Homo sapiens: one gene and its partner. The protein of the gene in region 1 interacts with the protein of each later gene in a pairwise test. Each region holds a gene or a part of one and is shown on either strand. Other genes may lie near its edges.

Region 1 (3,500 bases):
GGAACTTTGGCATCAGGGCGCAGGGATGGATTCTAACGGTTTCTTTGCTGGTTGAAGAGGCTGCTTCCTGCCGACTTCTTTTTTTTTTCTTCTTATTCTTCACTTACCAGCCCAGCTTGTGAATGTGAAGGAGTTGTCCCTTTTCCAAATGAACAGGACTGGTGTATCAGGTGGCCTTGCCATTGTATGCACCTGCCGGTCTGAGAAAGCAAGTGTTCTGTCTGTATCTGCAACTGTTTGTGTCTCACGCTTTGCAAATCTCTTATCCCTCTGAGTCTCAGAAATCCCCCATGAGTGAAAAAGGGCAGGTAGCCTGGTGCCCATTTGATAGGAGAGGAAATTAGGCCAAAGCCCTTTCAAATCTCAAACATGCCTAAACTAGAGAACTGGATGACCCTTGTTCCTTAGACTCGGGCATTCTTGCTCACAGGAATGTCTTTTGAAAATTTATTTTTCAAGAGGAAGAGCTTCATGAGGCAAAAGCCAACACGCAGACACCGTATTACCTAGCGGCATTTATTGGATTTGTCTCTTGAGTGATTCAAACAAAAGATTACGGTTATAAATAGATAGACCTAATTGTGGCAAACAATGCCTACCTTTTATTGAGCACTTATTATGTGCCAGGCATTTTAAATACTTGATCTTATTCAATCCTGATAAGAAACCTCCTGAGATCAGTAATATTATTCCAATTTTACAGAGGAGGAAAGTGAGAGAGAAATTTCAATAACTTTCCCAGGGTCATACAGCTGCATAAATGTAGGAGACGGAATTTAGACCTAGGTCTTCTGACTATGCCCTCACCTCATTCACTATGCCAGTGTTTCCCAAATTTCCTACGTTTGCATGTTAGGAATACATATTCTTAGGCCCACACCCAATCTCCCAGATCAAGGGAGAAACCTCAGAAGGCCTTTCCCTGGATACCTGATCTAAAAAATAGCCTCCTCCCCAGGCACTAACACACCGTTATTTAATTTTCATCATTATATTTGTCACTACTTGATATTTTCTTATTTGTGTATTTGCATATTGTCTTTCTTCTCCACTAAGGGATGAGTTCCATAAGTGCAGATACAAGATGTCCAACGTTTTAACTTCTAGAAACTGACCAAGGGGGATGGTACCTACGAAGTACTCAAAACATATTTATTAGATAAGTTAGTAGACACTGTCCAAAGTATTGTGTTAAGAAGAATTGTGAGTCTGGACCCAGGTTCTGGAGAGAAGATGAGAACACTGGTGTGTGTCCTGAGGTTTCAGGATGGGAAAGTGTTGGCACATAGGCCATGTATTTGCCATCCCAGAGAAAGAAACTCAGTCTCCCCAAAATTAAGAGGAAGATGACACAGAAAGTCAGTAGGAGAGCCAGGTAAAATGCAATCACTTCTTTCCAAGACCTTTATCTCTTACTTGGAAGTCAAAATGAACACATTTGTAATGGAGAAGAAATCCATGGTCAACAGTGAGGTGCTGATCAAAACTGCAATCAGATTGGATTAGGGAGAGATCAGAGTGGATGGACATCAGCATGGAAGGCTTTCTGGAGGAAGCAGAAAATCGAGTTGCCCCTTGATGAGCGATTATCTGGAAACTTCCTTTGTTGTCAGGCTTGTACTTTGAGCTATACATAGAGTGTTTTTTAGGCCCTTGCAACACCCTAATGAAGTAAGTATTGTAATCATAATTTTATGGGTGATGAAACTGAGTCACAGAAAGCCTACAGAACTTGCTCCAGCTCACAGGGCTACTAAGGACTGAGTAGGAATTAACAGCCGGTGATTTCAATAATGGTTTTCTTAACAGAGCAGGTGTGTCTGGTAGGAAACAGCCCAAGTAAGGGTCTGGGTATGGGGTCAGTTGGAGGAGCTGGAGGTGCAGTTCACAGGTAGTAATGAAGTCAGCTGGTTGCAGAATTGGACCATAACAATATTCCAGTGAAAGGAACCAGATCTGCTGTTCTCTCCCATTTAAAAGCCTTGGATGCCAAAACGCACCACACCTGACCCGGTGATCACAGGCAATTCAAAGGTGTATTACTTATGCAGGCATAGGCAGCGAGGGAAGCCACTGGTTGAGGGCCCCACTGAGAAGAGGACTCCCTGACTTCTGGGGAGGAGAAAGAGCCTGGTGCTGGGGACCTACGTAGATATAGGACAGGGGCCCACCTGTTGAATAATGCCGAGAGGAGGTAGTGGGGGAAGATTAATTTTGAGTGATCTGCTCCATTGGGGGTCAGGCTGGGGGTGGTCAATCAAAAAGAGTAAGGGTGAGTTTTCTTGCATATGATTACTAGGTGCTGCAGAGGTGAGTGGGGCTGAGTGGGTGGTGAGGGGTGGGGTGCCCTGATGGTTTCTGCCCCAGTGGGTGTTAACTATTTGGACAAATGACATTTTGCTGGGAGCAACTTTTTGCACTCAACTCAATTTCTTCAAAATTCACTCCCTAACATTTGGTTCACCATCCAAAGAGCTAATATACTTGTATATAGGCTGTACCAATTTTACATAGCCAGTGCAGTATGTAAGTCTACTTGTGGGCAGGAGGGCTCCTAAAACAAGGTCACCCCAGGCTACAGGGGACATCCAAGTCCTAGGGAGTTCAGAGTACCACATGTAGAATTTGGTTTCTGTTTGGTGGTACATCCATTGGGCTATTTGGATTACTTTGCCTTGCAATATTTATCCACGTCCAGCAGGATACACTATGCCCTCTGAGAGCATATACTCCTTCTGGGAAGCTGGCATATCATCTGGAGCTAGTCTCTTATCTGCCACCCTGGCAGTTAGGGGTTTTTGCCCTTCAGTGAAAGCTTCCAGTGCTGCTGTTTTTTGTGTTACGTGGGCTGATAGGACCTCGGATCTTTCTCTGAAGTATCTGCTAGTTTTCCTGGTGTGATCATATTGTAAGACCTTAGTCCCACTCTTCTGGCCCCAAGTCATGCTTATACCCAGGACAATGGGTAGGAAGACTGCCCATCACCTCTGACTGGGGACTGTGACCAGCAGGGTTAAATTGCAGAACAGTCAGAAAAATGTGAAGGGGGTTGTCAGACTTAGCAGTGTGCAGGTGAGTTTAGGTATTTGGGACGTCAGGAAGAAGTTATCTAGGAGTGGAACAGGTGAAGCAGGTTCCCTCTGGGGCTTCCAATCTCTTGTGTTCCTTTAATATCTGGGGTGGGCCATGACACTAGTTGTGCTGTGTGGGCCTAGGAAGATACAAGCATAGGCATGTATTTATACATTTGGATAGATGTATGATCTGGACTCATGAGCCGGGGACCAGACTGGATAACATCTGAGCCAACATAGGACAGGGCAAGACCTAGGAGCCTAGACCAGAAGTGTTTGGTGTTGGTGGTTTTGTGGTGCAAATAAGGGAGTGGCCTGCTCATGGGGGCAGATAGGAGGCCCAACATTGCATGAGGTCCAGCCACTGGGATGTGGCTTTATCTCTGTGTACATACAAGTTAGCCCGGAGATAGCCTTAGGCAGTAG
Region 2 (3,500 bases), on another chromosome or scaffold:
AAAGGGCTGGGATTACAGGTGTGAGCCACTGCACCCGGCCTTTTGTCTGTGCTCTTAACTGCTACGCTATATGGCCTCAAACATCGGATAACTGAAAAGTAACAGGTCACCCAAACAGAAAAATAACCCACAAAGCAGGAGGAATCCGGAAGGGCGGATGATGCAGAAGGCACCTGATGCTCATCACCGTCACAGCTCCCGTCCTCTTTGCCCACCCACGCTTTCATTCATTCAGTATGCTGGCCCTGGGCCTGCACGGGCCAGCCACATGTCCAGCTAGACTGACAGCCATGGGCTCTGCTCTCCGGTGCCCACTGGGAGGCCATGCAAACATGCCCAGAAACCAAATATTGACAAATGCTGATAAGCATTGCAAAGGAACCAAGAAAGATGCTGGAATAAGGGTTTTCCTGTTTGTTTTTTGTTTTTTTGAGACGGAGTTTTGCTCTTGTTGCCCAGGCTGGAGTGCAGTGGTGTGATCTCGGCTCACTGCAACCTCCACCTCCCAGGTTCAAGAGATTCTCCTGCCTCAGCCTCTCGAGTAGCTGGGATTACAGGCCCCTGCCACCATGCCCGGCTAATTTTTTGTATTTTTAATAGAAACAAGGTTTCACCATGTTGGCCAGGATAGTCTCGAACTCCTGACTTCAGGTGATCTGCCTACCTCGGCCTCCCAAAGTGCTGGGATTACAGGTGTGAGCCACCGCGCCCGGCCACCTGACACGTATTTTACTTATTCGCTTGTTTAGTGTCTGTATCTCCCACTAGAACGTCAGCTTGATGAGAACAGAACTTTGTTTTTTAACCACAGCATGGTACATGGCAAATACGGGTGCTCAATGAAGTTGTGTTGAATTAATGAATAAGTTGATCATTTACAAAGACAAGATTTTGATCTTTCTACACACTGACCAGAAAAGCTGAGGAAGTGTGGAAATGACCATTCAGCACCCATGGTGCACATTGGCATAGGGGTGAGTATGTTCCAGTGGATTTTCCCAAATGTTTCTTGAGAATCAGGGCCCTGTGAACGCATGGCGCTTCTCTCCTGAGCCTGCTTGGGTTATTCCTCTTATCATGGACTCACCTCCCCAGCGGGAGTGGAAAAGAGCCTGTGATGCTGCAGGAAGGGGACCCAGAGTTCTGGGCTCCTTAGGGCACCTGGTAAGGGCGCTGGAGATCTGTGCACAAGAGGCCAGGTGAAGCTAGGGGCTGGACCCTGTCTGGATCTGCCCCGCTGTTCACTGCATCTCCGTCAACAGAGCAAAGCTCTGCTGCTGCCCCAGGAGGAGGCTTAAGTCCTTCTGCTTCTCTGTGCATTCCCAAGGGACCCAGGCCCCCGCTACTCTCCCTTGGGTTTCCAGGTCCCCCTTATCTTCCTTATGCTTGCCTGCCAGGGCAGCCTGCCCTGATTGTGTGAAACGCTTATCCTAGCACGGGCACAGGACTCTCTGGGCTCAGCCTCCTGGGCCCAATCCCAGCTCTGATACCACCTGGCTCTGTCATGTGGCAAGTAACCATGGCTTTCTGAGTCTCAGTGTCCTCTATCTATAAAAGGGGCACAATGATAGAAACCACCTCATTGGTTGTGTCAAGATTAAAAGAGATTGTGCACACTAAGCAATCATCATAGTACCTGGTGCACAGTGAATACCTATTGTTACACTTTTTATTCTCATCTCTGTCTTCTTGGACTGTCACTTGTCAGTGTCCTGCATGGGCTGACCCTCAGGGGCCTTGACCCTGTCCATTTCCTGGTTTCTGCCAGGAATCCTCAGACTTTTCTACCCCTTAGTTTACCCCAGGAGCCAGGCCCAGTGCTATGTGACTTCACGCATGGCCCTTCTCCTGTCTTCATCTCAGTCTTCCTATCTGTAAAATGGCCCCAGGTTAGGCTCGATCACCTCCGAGGTCCCAGGAGTTTTGATGTCTACCATGCCCTACCCTTCTCTTGTGCAAACATCTTCAGTAGCTCCGCACAGCCCAGTGGAGGCCCCTTGTTAACACCTTCATGACCAGCTGCTGCCAACCTTCATCTCCTGCCCCTTTCTGCACATCCTCTCCACTCTGGCCACAGAGAAGTCCTTTTCATTCTCTAAAGTGCTATCCCCTCACTTTTCTAGGCCTTTGAACAGCTGTTCCCCCTGCCTGCAACTCCCATCTCCCACTTCTACCTGGCTAACTTCTGCTCGGCCTTTTCTGCGCCCATGATCCCTAAGTTCTACCCCTGCAGCATTTATCACACTGTAGGGCCTAAGCTGTGAACTCCCCCAGGACTGGGACGACCTCTGGTTTACCTCTCTAGTATCAGTCCAGCAGGGGCTCCCTGGATGCTTCCCCACTAAACAAACACAAGAATGAATGAACATAAGGACCCCTCTGCACCCTGGCAATCCTTTGGAGGCCTCCTTCCCAGGCCTCCTGTGGTGCTGGGGGACAGCCGCCCATGGGCACGTACCTTGCAGGTATACTCAGTGCCTGTAGGGCAGTGCAGGGCCTGGTAGGCCCGCCCGCCCTCCTCGGGCTCCAGGAGGACATAGGGCCCAAGACGGGAGGCAGTGGCCACAGCAGTTGCACGATCTGGAGCAGTAGGTGGGCTCAGGGGCAACAGGCAGGGGGGCAGTCTGGGCTGGGGCCCACTTCGAGCTCGTTTCTGGACGGGACGCTCGGTATCTAAGTTGTCATCCAACTCCAACCGCTTCTTCCTGGACAGGGAACCCGCAGGAGCAGCCAGAGGGGTGGCTCGCATCTGGTAAAAAGGAGAGAAAAGCACTAAAGTGAGACTGCTTGGTGGCCCCTCCTTTCCCCTGCTGGTGGGAGGATACGTGGCACAACATTTATAGGGGGTGATCTGGCAGTGTGTGTTAAAATGACAAAGTCACATATCCTTAACTGGGTGCCCCACTTCTGGGAATTTATCTTCCAGTTAAACTTCTCACAAAAAAATTAAATATAGTAAAGGCTGTTCATCAGAGCCTTGTGTCCAATAGCAAAAGCAGGAAATATCCCAAATGTCAGGCAGTAGAAAGCTAGTGAAAACATCATGGTATAGCCATACAGCAGAATACTACACAGCCCTGAAAAAGGACAAGGAAGCTCTCTATATACTGATGCGTACTGATCTCCAAGATGTATTAAGAGAAGAAAGACAAACACAGAATTACGTGTTATAGAATGCTTTTATGGTGGGTTTTTTTTTTTTTTTCCCCAAGAGATGTTGCCCACGCTGGTCTCAAACTCGTGGCCTCAAGTGAACCTCCCACCTCAGCTTCCTAAGTAGCTGGGACTCTAGTAGTGAACCACCACACCTGGCTATACTTTTATGTTAAAAAGAATATATATAAATATGTTATATATATGTATGTATTTGTTTGAATATCTATCATCTCTCTCTCTGAAAGGATGCACAAGATTAGGAGGAGACTCTTACTATTACAGTTCACTTGCAGCCTCGACCTCAGGGTTCAGGTGATTCTTCCACCTCAGCCTCCCAAGTAGCT

The links.
Region 2: the proteins of LMO2 (region 1) and TRIB3 interact in binary tests that used the Homo sapiens proteins (3 or more experiments, as listed by UniProt).

Annotation. Positions count from the first base shown.
Region 1 is NC_000011.10:33,882,077-33,885,576, forward strand, and holds part of LMO2 (rhombotin-2), read right to left. Parts: intron 201-3,500; exon of another isoform or gene 108-200; intron 1-107. UniProt on the Homo sapiens protein: Acts with TAL1/SCL to regulate red blood cell development. Also acts with LDB1 to maintain erythroid precursors in an immature state.
Region 2 is NC_000020.11:387,260-390,759, reverse strand, and holds part of TRIB3 (tribbles homolog 3), read right to left. Parts: intron 2,750-3,500; coding exon 2,459-2,749; intron 1-2,458. UniProt on the Homo sapiens protein: Inactive protein kinase which acts as a regulator of the integrated stress response (ISR), a process for adaptation to various stress. Inhibits the transcriptional activity of DDIT3/CHOP and is involved in DDIT3/CHOP-dependent cell death during ER stress.